3 linked regions of the Homo sapiens genome follow. The protein of the gene in region 3 interacts with the protein of the main gene of each other region in a biochemical or structural test. Each region holds a gene or a part of one and is shown on either strand. Other genes may lie near its edges.

The links.
Region 1: the proteins of BCAP31 (region 3) and BCL2 form a complex in vitro, tested with the Homo sapiens proteins (one study listed by BioGRID).
Region 2: the proteins of BCAP31 (region 3) and ITGAM form a complex in vitro, tested with the Homo sapiens proteins (one study listed by BioGRID).

Annotation. Positions count from the first base shown.
Region 1 is NC_000018.10:63,131,117-63,134,904, reverse strand, and holds part of BCL2 (apoptosis regulator Bcl-2), read left to right. Parts: intron 1-3,788. UniProt on the Homo sapiens protein: Suppresses apoptosis in a variety of cell systems including factor-dependent lymphohematopoietic and neural cells. Regulates cell death by controlling the mitochondrial membrane permeability. Appears to function in a feedback loop system with caspases.
Region 2 is NC_000016.10:31,262,840-31,266,627, forward strand, and holds part of ITGAM (integrin alpha-M isoform 2 precursor), read left to right. Parts: intron 1-2,555; coding exon 2,556-2,659; intron 2,660-2,942; coding exon of another isoform or gene 2,943-2,971; coding exon 2,972-3,042; intron 3,043-3,190; coding exon 3,191-3,308; intron 3,309-3,788.
Region 3 is NC_000023.11:153,717,805-153,721,592, reverse strand, and holds part of BCAP31 (B-cell receptor-associated protein 31), read left to right. Parts: intron 1-620; coding exon 621-721; intron 722-3,788. UniProt on the Homo sapiens protein: Functions as a chaperone protein. Is one of the most abundant endoplasmic reticulum (ER) proteins.

The DNA of each region.
Region 1 (3,788 bases), on a different chromosome or scaffold from region 3:
CCATGGAGACAAAATTATAAACTCATGAAAAATAGAAAATATCAAAGTCATTCGATAGCTGTGTTTGATTTCCCATTGGCATGGTCTGATTTTCTTTTTACTTTCTTCTTACTGCCGATGAGACTCTGCAGTCTGCAGGAACAAAATGGCGGCACCCATTGATTTAGTTTAGTTCAAATGTGCACATAGAGGCATTACCTCTCTCTAGAGTGTAAGCTCTTTGGGGACAGGGTGGCTTTTCTCCCTTAGAATTCCCTTCGATTGTATAACGTCTGCATGCATAGTCAGCTCAAAGACTGTGGAATGTAGCTGAATTTCGAATTTGCTTATAGCCAGCCAAGCCATATTAAATTTCCCCAGTATATAGAGAGCTGAGAACACACACTGAGCTCGGGGCCTGAACCTCTTATTGCAGGCATTGGTCTGAGGGGCAGAGCTCATGAGAGTTCTTCTGGGCCAGGGTCTAAGGAGGCCCTCACTTAACCGGGGGCCTGTTGCATGGTTCTAGGTCATGGCTGCTGCCTGGGAGCCCATGTCTCCCCACTACTAGACATCATCTCCCAGCATTTTTGTCTGTCAAATTATGGAGTCTGGATTTTTTTCAGATTAAGTAAGCACTTAGAATGTAACATTATTCTATGTAGTATATATTGAAATATATTTCATAAATAGTAATATACATGTTTGTATTGAATTAGAAAAGACAGCTAAGGAAAAAAATCAGAATAGCCTCTTAAATGCCATGTCCTCATGCCTACTTCTGCCTTCAACGATAATCACTGTTAACATCTTTGCGTTTTCCTTTATATTATTTTTTTCTGTTTGTAAACGCGCACATGTATATGTTAGGTTTTTACAGAAGTGGAATCGTGTTTTGCTGACCGTTTTGTCCTGCTTTACTCAATATGACCTTAGGAACACAATTTCTTGCCAATAACTATAGGGTATGACTTTTAATGCTGAACAGCACTCCATCATGTGGACGCGCTGTCAGTCATCTATTTTCAGACATTTGTTTCCAGGTTTATGCTATTATACATAATCTGTGCACTTTATTATTTTTCCAAAATAAATAACTGGAAGTGAAATTACTAACAAAAGCTTTTTAAAAGCCTTTTGATATGCATTACCAAATTCAAAAGGTCTCCATGTTTACCTTTACCTGGGCATAAGGGTTATTTTGGGACCCCCGCCCATATCCCCAACCGCATGCCATTCTTTTCAGCACTTAGAATTAACCTTCTCTTCCATTCTTGACAATCTGACCTTTTTTAAAAAAAATTCTCATTTTAGGTTTACGTGAAATTTCTCGAAGTGGACCAGGGGTGGTGGCTCATGCCTGTAATCCCAGCACTTTGGGAGGCCAAGGTGGGAGGATCACTTGAGGCCAGGAGTTTGAATCCAGCCTGGCCAACATGAAACCCTTTCTCTACTAAAAATACAAAAATTAGCCGGGCGTAGTAGAGGGTACCTGTAGTCCCAGTTACACGGGAGGCTGAGGCAGAAGAATTGCTTGAACCTGGGAGCCACTGCACTCCAGCCTGAGTGACAGTGGCTCCATCTCAAAAAAAAAAAAAAAAAAAAATTCTTGAAGGTTCTGAACGGAAAAGGAAAATGTTGGAGGATGGCTGCCTCCCAGGTGGGAGTGCTCCATGGCCCGGAGGGGTGAGGACACCTTTGCTGAGTTTAGGAGTCTTGACCCTGGTCTGTTCCCGTCCACACCTACCTGGCCTGGTTCCAAACCTGCAGCAAGGCTGCGGCTGGGAGTTTAGCCATCCTGTCCCCTTGGGCCAGCCCTGGGTGGAACTCAGATCCTCTGTGGCCTCTGAATTGGAAATTTATGGGGAAGCCACTGTGGACAGAGCCACCAGAGCTGAGGCCCTGCCCATCTCCTCCTCATAGGAGGAGCCGGTGCCAGCCTTTCCGTGTGAACCTGTGATCCGTGAAGTCGGGTAAGCCCTTGCCAGTCCTGACATGAGCAAGGGACACAGAGCTTCCTAAATATATAGACTGGGATTTTGTCCGAATCACATGACGACCCAGGTTTTCTTTTTCCCTCTTTGTTGCTTTTAATACATAAAATGAGCATGTGTTTATTTAAAACAGCTTTCAAACTCAAACAAATAATGACAGACTGTTCAAACAGACTTCGGAAATCGCCCCAATCAGGATGTTTGAAAAATCAGGAAGACTTTCTACGAAAGAAGCTTTCAGGTCATTTTAGTCCCGAAGCCGCAGGGTCTCCTTTGCACTTTGGAATTGTAGAAGGGCAAAGTTTAGAGGCCAGCTCCAACCTCCAGGGGGTTAAATGACTTGCCCTCTAGCCCTACACTCTAATAATGTGTAAAGAAGGACAGATAGGTAGGCATTGTATTATCACTTCCCATCTTTGACCAGAACACGGGATGTATACATTTTAATTCATAATTCCTATAGAAATTACGGACTATCCTCAGATCAGAAAGCTAAGAGAGGAAATTGCTTCTGCAAAACGGCAGGCTCAGCAGAACTTCTTGGGGGAAGGGCAGGTTGAGTAGGTGCGGAGCAGGTCTGCAAGAGGACAGACAAGAGCAAGGTGTTTGTTCTGCCACGAGCTCACTTTCTGTATCCAATTTACAAATGGCTTTGAGTGACCTACGTTAATCTTCACAATAATGAATTTTATGGCTATGGATGAAGTAAATGAGGCTCGGGGCTGGGTTATCTGCTGAAGGTTATAAACTAATAAAATATCAAAGCCAGGGTTCACCCACACTCCTCCTCCAAGTCCCATGCCCTTCTCAGCCCCCTGGGATGGCAACAGCATCTCTATGCTGAGGCTTTGGGCCAAGAGCTGCTAGTTTAGCTCATCTCACTCTAGAAATGACATTGTTCTACGTAATGCATATCAGAAATGGCCTGTTAGGTTCATGAGAAGCACTGTTATTTGTGTGGGGGTGAGGGTGGTGAGAGGGAATTATTCCAGCTCTGAGGAGGTGGGGATATTTGGGACAGCATTTCTTCTGCTCTCCAGCACTGTGTGCCAGACCAACTGGGAGAAAATGCCAGCTGGAGTATGTCCCTGCATCCTCCGGTTTCCCAGGATGGCTTCAGGTCCAGACAGGACAAATGATCAGGGGCTTAGTCTGGTTCAGATTTTGCCACACAAAACTCTGTTGATTACTAAAGGGATTCAGAGCCCGGCCACTGACCTTCTCAATGTCAAGCCAAATTGCAGACAACCTATTGCCAGTGCCCTGACAAATTTGGGGTGTCTTTTGGCTGGGCTATTGGGGGTTTCAGCCTACCCATCCCTCAGAGAGAGAAGCATGGATGGGAGGACTAGTTGACATTTGCAGCCGTGTCTGTGATGTCTTGGGTTGCTCCCTGGAAGAGGCAGAGTTCTGGCTTGTGGAGAAGTCCTGACTCCTTCCTGCCCCACTGATCCCTGCTTATATGGAGAGGGGTGTGCATCTTGGCAGACAATCATGATTGTGCCTTAGCTCTGTGCTAAGAGCACTAAACACACATTTTATGTACGTCTATTGCCTCGCTTTTCTAACACTGAAATTTAGAAATGTTTAACAATAGATATTTAAAAAGAAGAAGAAAGCCCTTGCGCCCTCTCCTGGTAAAAGTTAACCAAGGACCTCCAAAGATGCAGAAGGCCCACTGGGTTAGCAGTCGCTGGTCTGGGCTAGCTGATTGTGCTGATTTGACCAATGCTGTTGACACACAGGATGGGTCATCTGTTCTTCTATGGTCTGTGATTACAGAGCATCTTATAAACCAGAGTTTCTCAGCCTCGG
Region 2 (3,788 bases), on a different chromosome or scaffold from region 3:
GGTCTCTGCTCTTTGCTTTATCTCCCATAATACAGCCCAGTGATTTGAGTCCATTAATCCCATGTTATGCTTGCATTGCATGCCATAATTGGGAGATGCTATAATTTATTTTATTTTATTTTTTTAGAGACTCCCTCTGTCGCCCAGGCTGGAGTGCAGTGGCATGATCTTGGCTCACTGCGACTTCTGCCTCCTGGGTTCAATCGATTCTCCTGCCTCAGCCTCCTGAGTAGCTTGGATTGCAGGTGCCTGCCACCACGCCTGGCTAATTTTTGTATTTTTGTAGAGACAGGGTTTCACCATGTTGGCCAGGTTGGTCTTGAACTCCTGAGCTCAGGTGATCCACCTGCCTCGGCCTCCCAAAGTGCTGGGATTACAGGCTTGAGCCACCGTGCCTGGCTTGTAATCTCCTTTTACATTACATTAGATCTCTTGTTAATGAACATTTAGATTGTTCCCAAACTTTTGCTCTATGAACAATGCTGTCATTTTGCACATGTGCAAGCCTATTTGGAAGTAAAGGCTAGGACTGGGATTGTGGTATCCACGGGTGCATGAGCACGTGCAATTTTAATAGATTTTTCCAGATCCCCCTCTACAGTGGTGGCAGCAATTTACACTCACACCAGAAATTCATGAAAATACCTACTTCCTCATACTCCCTCACTCATTTGCCAACTCAGTGTGCTATCAAACTTACTGATCTCTGCAGATCGAGTAGGTGAGAAGTGGTATCTTAATTTAGCTTTAAATTGCTTCTTTTTTTTTTATGAGAGAGGCATTTTCTGTGAACATGTTTTTCTTATCTGTTGGCCATTTTTCTTTCTTTTTTTTTTTTTTTACTAGTTTGTACAAGCTTTGAGTACACTGAGGAAAGTAGTCTGGGGTATGAGTTGTGAAGCTCTCTCCCTTGTGTATTATTTTTCTTTTGAGTATGCTTATGGTAGTTTATCACATACAAAAATTTATTTATTTATTTATTTATTTATTTATTTATTTATTTATTTATTTATTGAGATGGAGTCTCGCTTTGTCGTCCAGGCTGGAGTGCAGTGGAGTGATCTCGGCTCACTGCAACCTCTGCCTCCTGGGTTCAAGCGATTCTCCTGCCTCAGCCTCCCGAGTAGCTGGGACTACAGGTGCGTGCCACCACGCCTGGCTAATTTTTTTGTATTTTTAGTAGAGATGGGGTTTCACCATGTTAGCCAGGATGTTCTCGATTTCCTGACCTCGTGATCCACTTGCCTCGGCCTCCCAAAGTGCAGGGATTACAGGTGTGAGCCACTGCGCCTGGCCCAGAAATTTATTGAAAATGACTGTGTGGAGGCTGGGTGCAGGGGCTCACGCCTGTAATCCCAGCATTTTGGGAGGCCGAGCTGGGCTGGTCGCTGGAAGCCAGGAGTTCGAGACTACCCTGGCCAACATAAGGAAACCTCATCTCTACTAAAAATACACAAATTAGCCAAGCATGGTGGCACACACCTGTAATCCCAGCTACTCAGGAGGTTGAGACAGGAGGAATGCTTGAACCTGGGAGGCAGAGGTTGCAGCAGTGAGCCGAGATTGCACCACTATACTCCAGCCTGGGTGATGGAGTGAGAATCTGTTTCAAAGAAAGAAAATAAATAAAAATAAAAATAAATAAAATGACTGTGTGGGCCGGGTCCAGTGGCTCATGCCTGTAATTCTAACACTTTGGGAGACTGAGGTGGAAGGATTGTTTGAGCCCAGGAGGCAGAGGTTGCAGTGAGCTATGATTATGCCACTGGACTCCATCTTGGGCAACAGGGTGAGACCCTGTCTCAAAGAAAAAAAAAAAATGGTTGGCCTGGGACTACAGGTGTGTACCACCATACCTGGCTAATTTTTAAAAACATTTTTTGTAGAGATGGGGTCTGGCTATGTTACCCGGGCTAGTTTCAAACTCCTGGCCTCAAATGATGCTCCTGCCTCAACCTCCCAAGGTGCTGGGATTAAAGGCATGAGCCATGGTGCCCAGCTTGAATTGACCTATTTTTATTTTTAAAATTTATTCATTTATTTTTTGGGACAGAGTCTTGCCCTGTCTCTCAGGCTGGAGTGCAGTGGTGCTATCTCGGCTCACTGCAACCTCTGCCTCCTGGGTTCAAGCAATTCTCTTGCCTCAGCCTCCCATTTAGCTGGGATTACAGGTACGCACCACCACGTGTGGCTAATTTTTTGTATTTTTAGTAGAGGCGGGGTTTCACCATGTTGCCCAGGCTGATCTTGAACTCCTGAGCTCAGGCAATCCACCCCCTTGGCCTCCCAAAGTGCTAGGATTACAAGCATGAGCCACCGCGCCTGGTCCTATTTTTAAATGACTTCTGGTTTTTGTGTCATTCTTAGGAAGACCTTTTCTCATTCTGAGTCTTAACATTTTCCCATTTTTTTCTTTGCTAATTCTTCCTCCTAGTCATAGGAATTTAGGAATCCGGGTATGGGCCCCCACCGTCCTCTGGGTGGCAGAACTTCCTCTGTGGTCTCCTTCTCTCCCCACATGTCGAAGTTTTCTCTGTTCCCACTTCTCCCCACAGGGTGGTGGTTGGAGCCCCCCAGGAGATAGTGGCTGCCAACCAAAGGGGCAGCCTCTACCAGTGCGACTACAGCACAGGCTCATGCGAGCCCATCCGCCTGCAGGGTGAGTCACTGCCCCGCCGGGCTGGGACTGGGATTCCCCTGTGAACACATAGGGACTTTCCAGGCACTCCTGTGTCCTGGGGATCTGTGGTGGGGACACAGGTGCCTGCCTCCGTACCCTCTCCTCTGCCTGCAGTCTCTACCCTAGACATCCCCAGGCAACCCCTCTGTGTTCCTTTCTTTCCCAAGATTTAGGATCCCCCTTCACCGTCAGACCTCCTTGTCTCCCGCATGGAGGTGACCCCTGCCCAGCTCTTCCACAGCCTTCTCTGTCCCCCCACCAGGGTGACCATGCCCATATCTGTCCCCGCAGTCCCCGTGGAGGCCGTGAACATGTCCCTGGGCCTGTCCCTGGCAGCCACCACCAGCCCCCCTCAGCTGCTGGTGAGTGGGGCTCGATCAGAGGAGCATCCTAATGGGGGTGTTTGGGGGCCCACGCATGGTGGGGCTGGGGGTCTTGTGGAGGGTGGAGGTGCTGGGGTACAAGGACAGGAAGCAGGGGCAGCCCCTTCCACTGGCTCCTGTCCCCTAGGCCTGTGGTCCCACCGTGCACCAGACTTGCAGTGAGAACACGTATGTGAAAGGGCTCTGCTTCCTGTTTGGATCCAACCTACGGCAGCAGCCCCAGAAGTTCCCAGAGGCCCTCCGAGGTGGGTTGCCTTTGGCAGAGGGAACAGATGCGCAGCAAAAGACCAGGGGAGGGGGCAGGACTGAGGTGACGTCTGCTCAAGGTCTGGGCTCTGGGTGCAGAAGAGTGGGGGAACTGGGTCCCATTAGAGTCAGAAGCTAGGGAGGTGCTAGGGTCTTGTACTTTAGGAAAACGCCTTGGCTAGGCACAGTGGCTCATACCTGCAATCCCAAAGCTTTGGGAGCCCAGGAGCTTGAGATCAGCCTGGGCAATGTAGTGAGATCCTGTCTCTAAAAAAAAAAAAAAAAAAAATTAGCTGAGTGTGGTGATGAGCACCTGTAGTCTTAGCTATTTGGAGGCCAAGGTGGGAAGATTGCTTGAGGCCACAAGTTCAAGGCAAGCCTGGGCAACATAGGGAGATCCCCGTCTCTACAAAAAAAAAAAAAAATTAGCCAGGCGTGGTGGCACACACCTGCAGTCCCAGCTACTCAGGAGGATCACT
Region 3 (3,788 bases):
TAAGATTAGTTTTCCAGGCTGGGCGCGGTGGCTTACACCTCTGCACTCCAGCCTGGGCAACAGAGCAAGACTCTGTCTCAAAAAAAAAAAAAAAAGATTAGTTTTCCAGACATTTTGATCTATACGTGGACCAGCATCTTTTTTTTTTTTTTTTTTTGAGACAAGGTCTCGCTCTGTCACCCAGGCTGGAGTGCAGTGGCGCGATCTCGGCTCACTGCAACTTCCGCCTCCCAGGTTCAAGTGATTCTCCTGCCTCACCCTCCTGAGTAGCTGGGATTACAGGTGCCCACCACCACGCCTGGCTAATTTTCGTACTTTTAGTAGAGACAGGGTTTCGCCATGTTGGCCAGTTTGGTCTTGCACTCCTGACCTCAAGTGATCCACCCACCTTGGTCTCCCAAAGTGCTGAGATTACAGGTGTGAGCCATTGCACCTGGCCTTTTTTCCAATAGTCTTGAATGGATGTCAAATTAGAGAATTGCAAGCCACTGAGGCTGACTTTGCATGGGCTATTCGGCCATTGGAGAAGAGTACAAAGCTGGATTTCCATTTTGCTCAGGGCCCTAGAGCTCGTGTGTGTGCTTTCTCTTCAACTCCTGTCCTTTTTGTCTTCTTCACAGATGGCAGAAGATTTTCAAGTCCCGGCTGGTGGAGTTGTTAGTGTCCTATGGCAACACCTTCTTTGTGGTTCTCATTGTCATCCTTGTGCTGTTGGTCATCGGTGAGTGAGCTATGGCTGAGGGCAGCTACCTGACCTAGACCCTGGTCTCTGCTGCAAAACCCTTTGCCACTTTTGATGTGTAGCATCCAGTTTTGGCTGCTAGGAGACAGACCAATGAAATGCTGTGTCTTTCTCTTGAGGGAGGGAAGAGGCTCCCTTTGCCCATGCTGCTGACCGCTAGTCGGTTCTTCACTTTGAGGCCCCTCTAGGCCGTACATGGTGGCTCATGCCTGTAATCCCAGCACTTTGGGAGGCTGAGGTCGGTGGATCACCTGAGATGAGGAGTTCGAGATCAGCCTGGCCAACGTGGTGAAACCCCATCTCTACGAAAAATACAAAATTAGCTGGGCGTGGTGGCGGGCACCTGTAATCCCAGCTACTTGGGAGACTGAGGCAGGAGAATTGCTTGAACCCACGAGGCAGAGGTTGCAGTGAGCCTAAATCGCACCATTGCACTCCAGCCTGGGCAACAAGAGGGAGACTCCATCTCAAAAAAAAAAAAAAGAGGCCCCTCTAGCAGTGGGCGTGGGCTTATACCAAGCAGTTTGTATGCAGCTTATGACGGCCACCTTACATTGCTTTTTTTCAAGACCTTGGAAGGAGGGACGCCTAAGGTTTCTGAGGCTGCTCCTCAGGTCACTCTAGAACTGAAGCCAAGAGAAGCTAACTGGCCTGTGACCTTGGTCTGAGTAGTGCTGCTCACCAGTCACTTAAACAGCAGAATTGCCTGGAGCAGGGCCTCTAATGGGGGACTGAGCAACCAAGCACACAGTGAAGTCCTGCCATTCCCTGTAGTAGTAGGAGGAGAACACAGAGATGTGTGGCAGCATATCTTGGGGAGAGATCCTAGACCTCTCTGCATCTGGGCTAGACTTGAGGTTTTCCCAGGTCGTTCCAGCTCTGTAGTTCTGTAAACTCTGACATTGAGGTGTACACTAGCAGGTGCTTGAAAGATAAACTGGTCCAAGGGCAAGCAGGCTCTGGGATAAGGCCAGGCCAGGTGGTGGTAAGATGAAAGGCAGACATTTTGCAATGAGGTGGTAGGGTGACCATCTGGAGACAAGAATCAATAAAGCTCTTGTCTGACTGGTAGATGTTTGTTGTTTTGCTGTGGTAAGTGATCGATATGTCCCCCTGTTTGGGCTCCAAAGTATTGGCTTGGCTCTGCTGTGGACACCACTCTTGTCTCAGAGCTGTGGTGCCTGCCTAGGCGTGGAACACTCCTCCCACCGAGTCCCAGCAGAAACACTGAGCGGGTGGGGGGCTGTGGTTCAGGGGAATGTGCAAAGCCTCACCCACCAGCTTCAGCATTAGGCATTTCTCCTTCCTGATGTCTCAGAGCCTGATAGGATATGTTCAGGCTGGACTGCCTCTGAACAGGCCAAGTGTTACCTGACAGCTTCCAACCACATAGGGTAGGTGCCAGCTGCCTGAGCACCTCAGTGTTCTTGAAATACTTGGCAAGGCCCCAAGAGGTAGTAGCTCTTTCTAACCAGGGTTCTCGCCCTGAGCAGCCTCCAAGCCAGGAGTAGGTAGGTAATATATGTGTCATCCCCAGGCCACTGAGTTTTTGAACTGAGCATGTGTGTTTTGGCTTTTGGGTCTGGGGTGGGGGTAATAACTGGGGAGGGGAGGGACCATGCTGAGGATGATTCCCTCAGGGTCTTGCCCCTTCCCCAAACCAGAAGGAGTATGTTTCTTTCCTAGAGCAGCTGAGTGGGCTGGAGAGATCCTTTGCGGAATCCAGTAGTTGACAAAGCCTTCATTCTTTTTTGGGATCGGGGAACTGCTTGGAAGTTCTAGGGGGACATATGGCCATGATGACTGGCTGCTTCCTACTCCCATGTTAAGAAGCATAATCTAGAAAGATCTGCAGAGCCTTCTTCAAACAGAAGTGTTAGTCACAGGTACTAGTGAAGGGTAAGGGGCATAACTAGCTAGAGCTGTGGCCTTGCTTGGGGGTGGGGAGGGTTGAGCAGATCCTCCTGGAGGATGGAGTTGCTGAGGGTGCAGGATCTTCCCACCTGGGCTGAGGCCCGAGACAGGGAGGGCTGGTTTCTACTGTGGGACTTGGGTTAGTATTGCTCAGTCCCCCATCCCCACTATTGGTCATTGGCCAAGGTGGTCCTTAGGATGGTGGGGTTCCTGGATGCAGGTGACAGTGTAAGGAAACATGTTTATCTTGTTTTTCTGATTACAAAAATAATGGGTAATTATTCTTAAAAATTCAAAAGTTGAATTTAGAAAGTTAAACTCCCCATAATCCCATTTCCCACAGGTAACCATCATGAGTATTTTGTTGTGCATTTCCAGAGGGGTTTTGTATGCTGACATCTTTAATAAAATGTCTACAACGGTGGGATCATACACACAAAGTATTTATGTTTCTTTCCACATTCCTGCTGGGACATGGCAGGAGGAGCATTCCACGCCTGAGCTGGTAGCACAGCTCTGAGATAAGACTGCTGTCCATAGCAGAGCCTAGCCAATACTTTGGATTGTGCTTTTTCTACCTGCTGCACGTTAGACATCTTTTTTTTTTTTTTTTTTTTTTGAGATGGAATCTCACTTTGTTGCCCAGACTGCAGTGCAGTGGCGCCATCTTGGCTCACTGCAACCTCCGCCTCCCAGGTTCAAGCGATTTCCCCTGCCTCAGCTTCCGAGTAGCTGCAGGTTACAGGCGCCCGCCACCATGCCCGGCTAATTTTTTGTATTTTTAGTAGAGACGAGGTTTCACCGTGTTGGCCAGGCTGGTCTTGAACTCCTGGCCTCAAGTGATCCGCCCACCTCGGCCTCCCAAAGTGCTGAAATTACAGGCATGAGCCACTGTGTCCGGCCAACATCTTTTTATAGCAATCTCATTCTTCTTAAAGATCATGTAGTATTCTCTCATGTGGTTGTGCCGTAATCCATTCTTTATAAGCATCTTCGAATCATTGCAAATTTATGCAAATACTTCTGTGGGATAATTTCAGAGGTGAATTGTTGAACCCGAGGGTATGAACATTTTGCATTTTATACAGGTGTGCTGTTTTTACCCCTGCTAACAGCGTTTGAGAGTACTCGC